Linked DNA regions of Homo sapiens. The protein of the gene in region 1 interacts with the protein of each later gene in a pairwise test. Each region holds a gene or a part of one and is shown on either strand. Other genes may lie near its edges.

Region 1 (3,500 bases):
GAAGGCGGTGTGATGGCTGGCATTGGAGCAGCCATCCTGGGCCACGACGTGGCTTTGGAGATGAAGGTTTTTCTCGGCAGAGCAACAAGATTCAAGTCTGAATCCACCAAGAGCACCAAAGAGCAGAATCAGCTCTGGGCTGCCCACCTCTAGACTTTCACATGACAGACAAACTTCTGTCATATTCAAATCACTGTTATTTTGGGTCTTTGTTACTCATAAACTACATAGTAACAGATCCACTGAACATTATTATTAAATAACAGTAAACATCTCAGGACATCTGATACAAGAATGACCTTCTGAATCTCTCTACAAGGGTCATAAAGAACACAATGGGCAACACCTATAAGAATGGCTTTACAACAGCTAGAATTTTTTTTTTTTTTTGAGAGATGGAGTCTTCCTCTGTCACCCAGGCTGGAGTGCAGTGGTGCAACCCTGGCTCACTGCAACCTCTGCTCCCTAGGTTCAAGCGATTCTCCTGTCTCAGCTTCCAAATTTTATAAAACAATTTTACATTTTAATCCCTGTTAAAGGGTGAAAGGACTCAGAACTTTGACGCCTGAGAAAGAGTTGCAGGTTTTGGGGTGATGGCTCAGAGAAGTTTTCGGAAGGAGATGAGGTCTCCTTTTACATGTTTAAGCACTAGGGCACGAAAGAGGCCACAAATTTGTTCTGTGTGACCCCATGGGGGCCGGGGAAGGAAATCTAGGACTGACTGGTGGAAGTCATGGGCAGTCAGATGTGGACTCAATTTAGTGTAAAGAGGAACTTTTGAATAGCTGGAGCTGTCCACAGAGGTCATCCTGGGAGACGGTGACCCTCAGCACTGGAAGCCATCAAGCACAGGTGGACAGAACTCAACGGAGCTGTTTGAAAACGGATTTAAGCATTAGATAGACAGCTGGACCAGAAGATCTTTGCAATTCCTTTTAACTCTACATTCCATGACTCAATCTCCTTTACTTGGTTGTAAACGCCATAAAAGCAGGATCCACTTCTGATTCATTTTTATAGTTCGCAAAGCATTCACTAATAGATTGATATCAAATGAAAAAGATGGAAAAATGGAATGAATCGTGATTAGGAAGTAGCAAGAGGGCAGGATGAAAGAGATCATTTGCTAGGTGACACAGAATGGCCCTTTGTAAAACTGTACTTTCTGCATTTGACTATAGCAATTCTTAATCTTCCTGGGATCCTCTCACACTCTTACGTGCTAAAAACCATAGGCCCTGCCCCCAAAACACTGCAAATACATTAGTAAAATTGTGCATACGTTTTCCTGGGGTACATGGACTCCTCTGATACTTATCTATGGACCATCCCAGGGGCCAGGAGGGCTTCTGTACCCCAGTTTAGGAACGGATGAGCTGAGCTCTGCGTAAGAGGTACTGGTATCTGTCTTACATTCGTGATATGAAAAAAGCTGGAAATACCTAGTTTTACTATCAATTTAATATTAATTATGAAAGAAATGGTTTGGCTGATGAAAGCTCCTCCCCTACAGATCTCTTCATTCTATTTTGGGCTCCTGACAGCTACAAAATGTGACACTGGTACACGAGAACTGGGAATCCAGGCTAAAGGTTAGAAGTCTCCGTTGCTCAGTTCTAACACCGGCAGCAGCTGTTCAGGCTGGGATGAGCCACAGCACGCGGCAACGTTGCCAGGATACAAACACCACCAGGGAAAGAGGCCTCTGCAACTGTACGTGCGTTAATTCAGGCACCATTTATCACCAATACAAGACTGAGAAACACAACTGCGGGGAATATCCTGGTGATGCTAAGGGCAGCGACAGTTCTCAGTGGATTCTGCTGGAGTGTTTCTTATTTTTTTTTTCAGAGGCAGGTCTTGCTCTGTTGCCTAGGCTGCACTTGAACTTCCGGGCTCAGCTGAACCTCCCAAGTAGCAGGGACTACAGGTGCGTGCCACTGCACCCGGCTCTGTGTATTGTGTATTGTTAATTCCATTGACTTGTATGACACCGTTTAGACCAGCCCACTTTTCCTTTTAAAAGAGAAACTGGTTCCCTCTCTTTTGAAGCTCTATCAAGATCTGCTTATTTTGGTATGTGAAGAAAAGTTACCTTCCCTTGTCCAGAAGCCCTGCTCTGGGGAAGGGAGGATAAAGTCATGGATGAGGGTAGCACTGCAGAGGCTGAGAAATTTGGGGAAAATTCCCACTCACGTAAGCTGACACTCCGCAGGTGTACACTTGATGCTATGGGTATACTGTCCTATCTAAAAATAAGTATTATTTAGCATAGGTAAGCACAGAATTTACTAGAACCAACAAGGAGTACTCAATTAACTAAAAGGCAGAGGGTACGCAGGTGTCTAGCATGGCCGGGTGGCTGTGGCAGTGGGAACCAGGTCCCTTCTCTAGTTTCTGTGCCTCTGTTAAGGTTGGAGCACCTCTCATTCCACCCTAACAGCAAGGTCCAAACTGCCCATGAGGAACCCTTTCCATGAATTAAAGGCCAACCTTCCTCGAGTGCCCACAAATCACTGAACCTCGCTCAGACCTTCCCCTCTACTGGGGATTCGACTCGGTTTCACTGGGATTTCACCTCTAAGAAACTGAAGTCATCAACCAACTGGGCCTCTGGAGAAAAACAAAAAGCCTATAAACCACCATCCCCCAGACACATCACATCCTCATACCCACACCTACCATGCAACCACAGGGACACACATACCTCCAAACTCCTCTACATTCAGGAGGCCACAAATCCAGGCAGTAACAAGCCTCCAAACTCACTCAGATCAGAGGAAAAGAACATTTTAAAAAGTAAGAACACAGCCAGGCACAGTGGTTCACACCTGTAATTCCAGCACTTTGGAAGGCCAAGGCGGGCGGATCATCTGAGGTCAGGAGTTCCAGACCAGCCTGGCCAACATAGCAAAACCCCATCTCTCCTAAAAATACAAAAATTAGCCAGATGTGTTGGCAAGCACCTGTATTCCCAGCTACTCAGGAGGCTGAGGTGGGAGAATGGCTTGAACCTGGGAGGCGAAGGTTGCAATGAGCAGAGATTGTGCTGCTGCACTCCAGCCTGGGCAACAGAGCAAGACTCTGTCTCAAAAAAAAAAAAAAAAAAATCAGATTAAAAAAATAGATCAGATCATACCACATTAAGTGATTCTGGTGAGAGGTTACAATATCAGATCCCAGTTGATAGTTTATAGGTACAGAACAATCTAATTCTATTCTAAGACTGATTTAAGCGACAGGGATTTTAAAAAAATTACATCTGGGCTCACACCTATCTATAATCCCAGCACTTGGGATTGGAGGATTGCTTGCTTGAGGCCAGGAGTTCAAGACCAGCCTGGGAAACGTAACAAGAAAAAACATAAACATGAACAAAAAAATAAACACAAACAAAAAACCGTAAACAACAAAACAAAAAACCATATATATATATATATATATATATATATATATATACGCACGCACACACACACACACACATATACACATACATATAT
Region 2 (3,500 bases), on another chromosome or scaffold:
ACTTTGGGAGGCCGAGGTGGGCAGATCACGAGGTCAGAAGTTTGAGACCAGCCTGAGACACATGGTGAAACCCAGTCTCTACTAAAAATACAAAAATTAGCTGGGCATGGTGGCGGGCGCCTGTAATCCCAACTACTCAGTAGGCTGAGGCAGGAGAATCGCTTAAACCCGGGAGGCAGAGGTTGCAGTGAGCCGAGATCATGTCATTGCACCTAGCCTGGGCAACAGAGCGAGACTCCATCTCAAAAAAAACAAAAACAAAAACAAAAAACAAAAAACAAGTGAGCTAACTAAGGGTAGGGAAATCATTGGCTAAATAACAGTACAAGTTATGTCAGAAGTTGTGAGGATGGCTCTTGAATGGCTGGCATTTAGAAAATCCCAGCCTAGATGAATACAAAAAAATACCAGGCTTTATAAAAAGCAAGTGTGTGCCTGACTGCTAGGCTTTTAATAACCTTTCCAGGGTTTCATACTCAAATTGCCAATATTCCTTATACACAAGAGATCAAAAAGTGAGGAAGCAGTAGAAGGTGGCTTATTTTTTGGAGTCTTTTTTTTGCAGAATCAAAATTTGAATATCATGGGTTGTTTTATTTTCTTCTTCTTCTTCTTTTTTTTTTTTTTTTTTGAGACAGAGTCTCACTCTTGTTGCCCAGGCTGGACTGCAGTGGTATGATCTCAGCTCACTGCAACCTCTGCCTCCTGGGTTCAAGTGATTCTCCTGCCTCAGCTTCCCAAGTAGCTGGGATTACCGACGTGTGCCACCATGCCCGGCGAATTTTTGTATTTTTAGTAGAGATATGGTTTTGCCATGTTGGCCAAGCTGGTTTTGAACTCCTGACCTCAAGTGATCCGCCCGCCTCGGCCACCCAAAGTGCTAGGATTACAGGTGTGCGCTAACGCACCCGACCTCAGTGTTGAGCCCTTTCTGCTTTTTCCCTCTCCGTTGCTGGGTTCTGTACACAAGGTAGCGGCAGCCCAGCTCCCAGGCCCCACGACTAAACCAGCTCTCCCTGTCACGGTTCCCCATGTTAGCCTTTTCTTCATAATGCAGTGTCCCTCGGCCACTCTGACCCATGTCATTACTGGGTTAACATTTTTCATCTAACTCCTGGGACCTGCTTTGCTTGTTCACTCTTGCTTCCCCATTTCCCGTCACCTCCTGGTTCCCAGATCTCAGTAATGAGTTGTCAAGTGCCAAGCGTCCCCGATTGTCAAATGTCCTCCAAGCCACCATTCTGCTTTCTTCCGGGCTATTCATGACAGCTGTGAATTGTATGGGACTCTTCGTATGCAGAGGCTCCAATGAGGAAGAGGAAACTGCCCTCCCACTGAGCAACCTTCTGTTGCTTGGGTTGACAAGAAAGCTATATTAATATCTCATCGGAACTCCTATGTTTCTTGTAGAGAAAAAATGGTTTCATTCCCAGCTAGCTCAGAAAAAGCCCATTTCATTCCGTGTTATAGATTTAGAATGATTTCCAATGGCTGGGTTTTTCATGCTTTGTTTGCAATGTTGTGAAATACCGCTTGGTTCTTAAACTATTGCCTTCTTGGTTCTTGTGTGGATAGCTACTGTACTTTGTACCAGTTGTCAATACTTCTGATTTCCCACAAGGTTTGTTTTTGTTTTTTTTTTGCTTTCTTAGATTCTGAAATATGTGGAGTGCTTCACTGGACCTAATATTATGGCCATGCACACAATGTTGATAAACAAACCTCCAGATTCTGGTAATTGTAAGGGAGAAGAAAAAAAAATGGTTTCATTAAAATGTGTAAGGTTGGCTGGGTGCAGTAACTCATGCCTGTAATCCCAGCATTTTAGGAGACCAAGGGAGGAAGATCTCTGAGGCCAGGAGTTTGAGAGTGGCCTGGGCAACATAGTGAGGCTCTGTCTCTAAAAATAAAATTTAAAAATATCCAGGCATGGTGGTATGCACTTGTAGTCCCTGCTATTGGAAGGCTGAGGTGGGAGGATCACTTGAGCCCAGGAGTTGAAGGCTGCAGTGAACCTATAATGGCATGCTCTCCAGCCTGCGTGACACAGTGAGACCCTATCTCTACATAATAAATAAAACAAAACAAAACAAAATAATAAAATAGCTGATGTCTAACTGTAATCATGTGTACAACTGTCAAACTTTGGATAAGGAAGTCTTAAAATAACTTACACTATAACAACAGTGAAATGTGGTAATTATTTCAGATATTAACTGTAGGACTGTTGCTGAATTTTCAGATGACTGGCTCCCCAAAAATGCAGTTTAACCGACATAACTGTTCATATATCAAAGGTTCCTGCCATTCGACGTCTCTAAGCTTGATCAGCTCTTTTTAGCTGTGATAGTGTGGATTCTTGCATTCCTGATAGGAAGACATTATTATTACTAACACAATTAAAATTGTTACTATGAGTCACAAACTATAGTGGTCTTTTTTTTTTTTTTTTTTTTTTTTGAGATGGAGTTTTGCTCTTGTTGCCCAGGCTGGAGTGCGATAGCGCGATCTTGGCTCACTGCAACCCCCACCTCCCAGGTTCAAACAATTCCTGATTCTCCTGCCTCAGTCTCCCAAGTAACTGGGATTACAGGCATGTGCCACCAAGCCTGGCTAATTTTTGTACTTTTAGTAGAGACAGGGTTTCGCCATGTTGGTCAGGCTGGTCTCGAACTCCTGACTTCAGATGATCCACCTGCCTTGGCCTCCCAAAGTGCTGGGATTACAGGTGTGAGCCACCGCGCCCAGCCTATAGTTGTCTTTAAAATGTCTTGTGCTTGCTAAAATGTAGAATCTAAGACCTCATTGGCAGACAGACTGATTGAGAAATATAACCCAGGTTTCTGTATTTTAATAACCTTCCTCAAGCTGGGCGTGGATGTGCACCTGTGGTCCCAACTACTCAGGAGGCTGCGGGGGGAGGATCGCTGGAGCCCAGGAGTTCAAGTCCAGAGATTGTAGTGCAGATCACTTGGACTACACTGGGAAATTCCTCTGTGCCTGCAGTAAAAATCAGCCATGAGAGAGTCCCCCTATCCTTTCTGCCTTTTCTTCCTTCTGATCTGCAGGAGGGGTTTATGTGATAGAAGGCAGCTTAGCATTACCAGGTCTCTCCCTCCTTGAGGAGAGCAGGTGTTCGGGAGCCACACTCAGGGAGCAAACCAGGGGAAAATGTCAGTGTGGTCATGGGCACTCCGACTGGACATGGAATGACTATAGTTGTGGGGGGTGAGGACCTCTTAGATAACTTTTTTTATTTTTATTTTTTTTGAAATGGAGTCTTGCTCTGTTGCCCAGGCTGGAGTGCAGTGGCTCAATCTCGGCTTACTGCAACCTCTGCCTCTGGGGTTTGAGTGATTCTCCTGCCTCATCCTCCTGAATAGCTGGGATTACAGGTGCCCACCACCACACCCAGCTAATTTTTTTTTTTTTTTTTTTTTTTTTTTTTTGGTATTTTTAGTAGAGACAGGGTTTCACCATGTTGGTCAGGCTGGTCTCGA

What was found. The genes of interacting proteins can lie anywhere in the genome.
Region 2: the proteins of MLYCD (region 1) and PHYH come close enough for resonance energy transfer, tested with the Homo sapiens proteins (one large-scale study listed by BioGRID).

What each region holds. Positions count from the first base shown.
Region 1 is NC_000016.10:83,902,115-83,905,614, reverse strand, and holds part of MLYCD (malonyl-CoA decarboxylase, mitochondrial), read right to left. Parts: intron 1-3,500. UniProt on the Homo sapiens protein: Catalyzes the conversion of malonyl-CoA to acetyl-CoA.
Region 2 is NC_000010.11:13,290,065-13,293,564, reverse strand, and holds part of PHYH (phytanoyl-CoA dioxygenase, peroxisomal isoform a precursor), read left to right. Parts: intron 1-1,652; coding exon 1,653-1,734; coding exon of another isoform or gene 1,735-1,740; intron 1,741-3,500. UniProt on the Homo sapiens protein: Catalyzes the 2-hydroxylation of not only racemic phytanoyl-CoA and the isomers of 3-methylhexadecanoyl-CoA, but also a variety of other mono-branched 3-methylacyl-CoA esters (with a chain length of at least seven carbon atoms) and straight-chain acyl-CoA esters (with a chain length longer than four carbon atoms).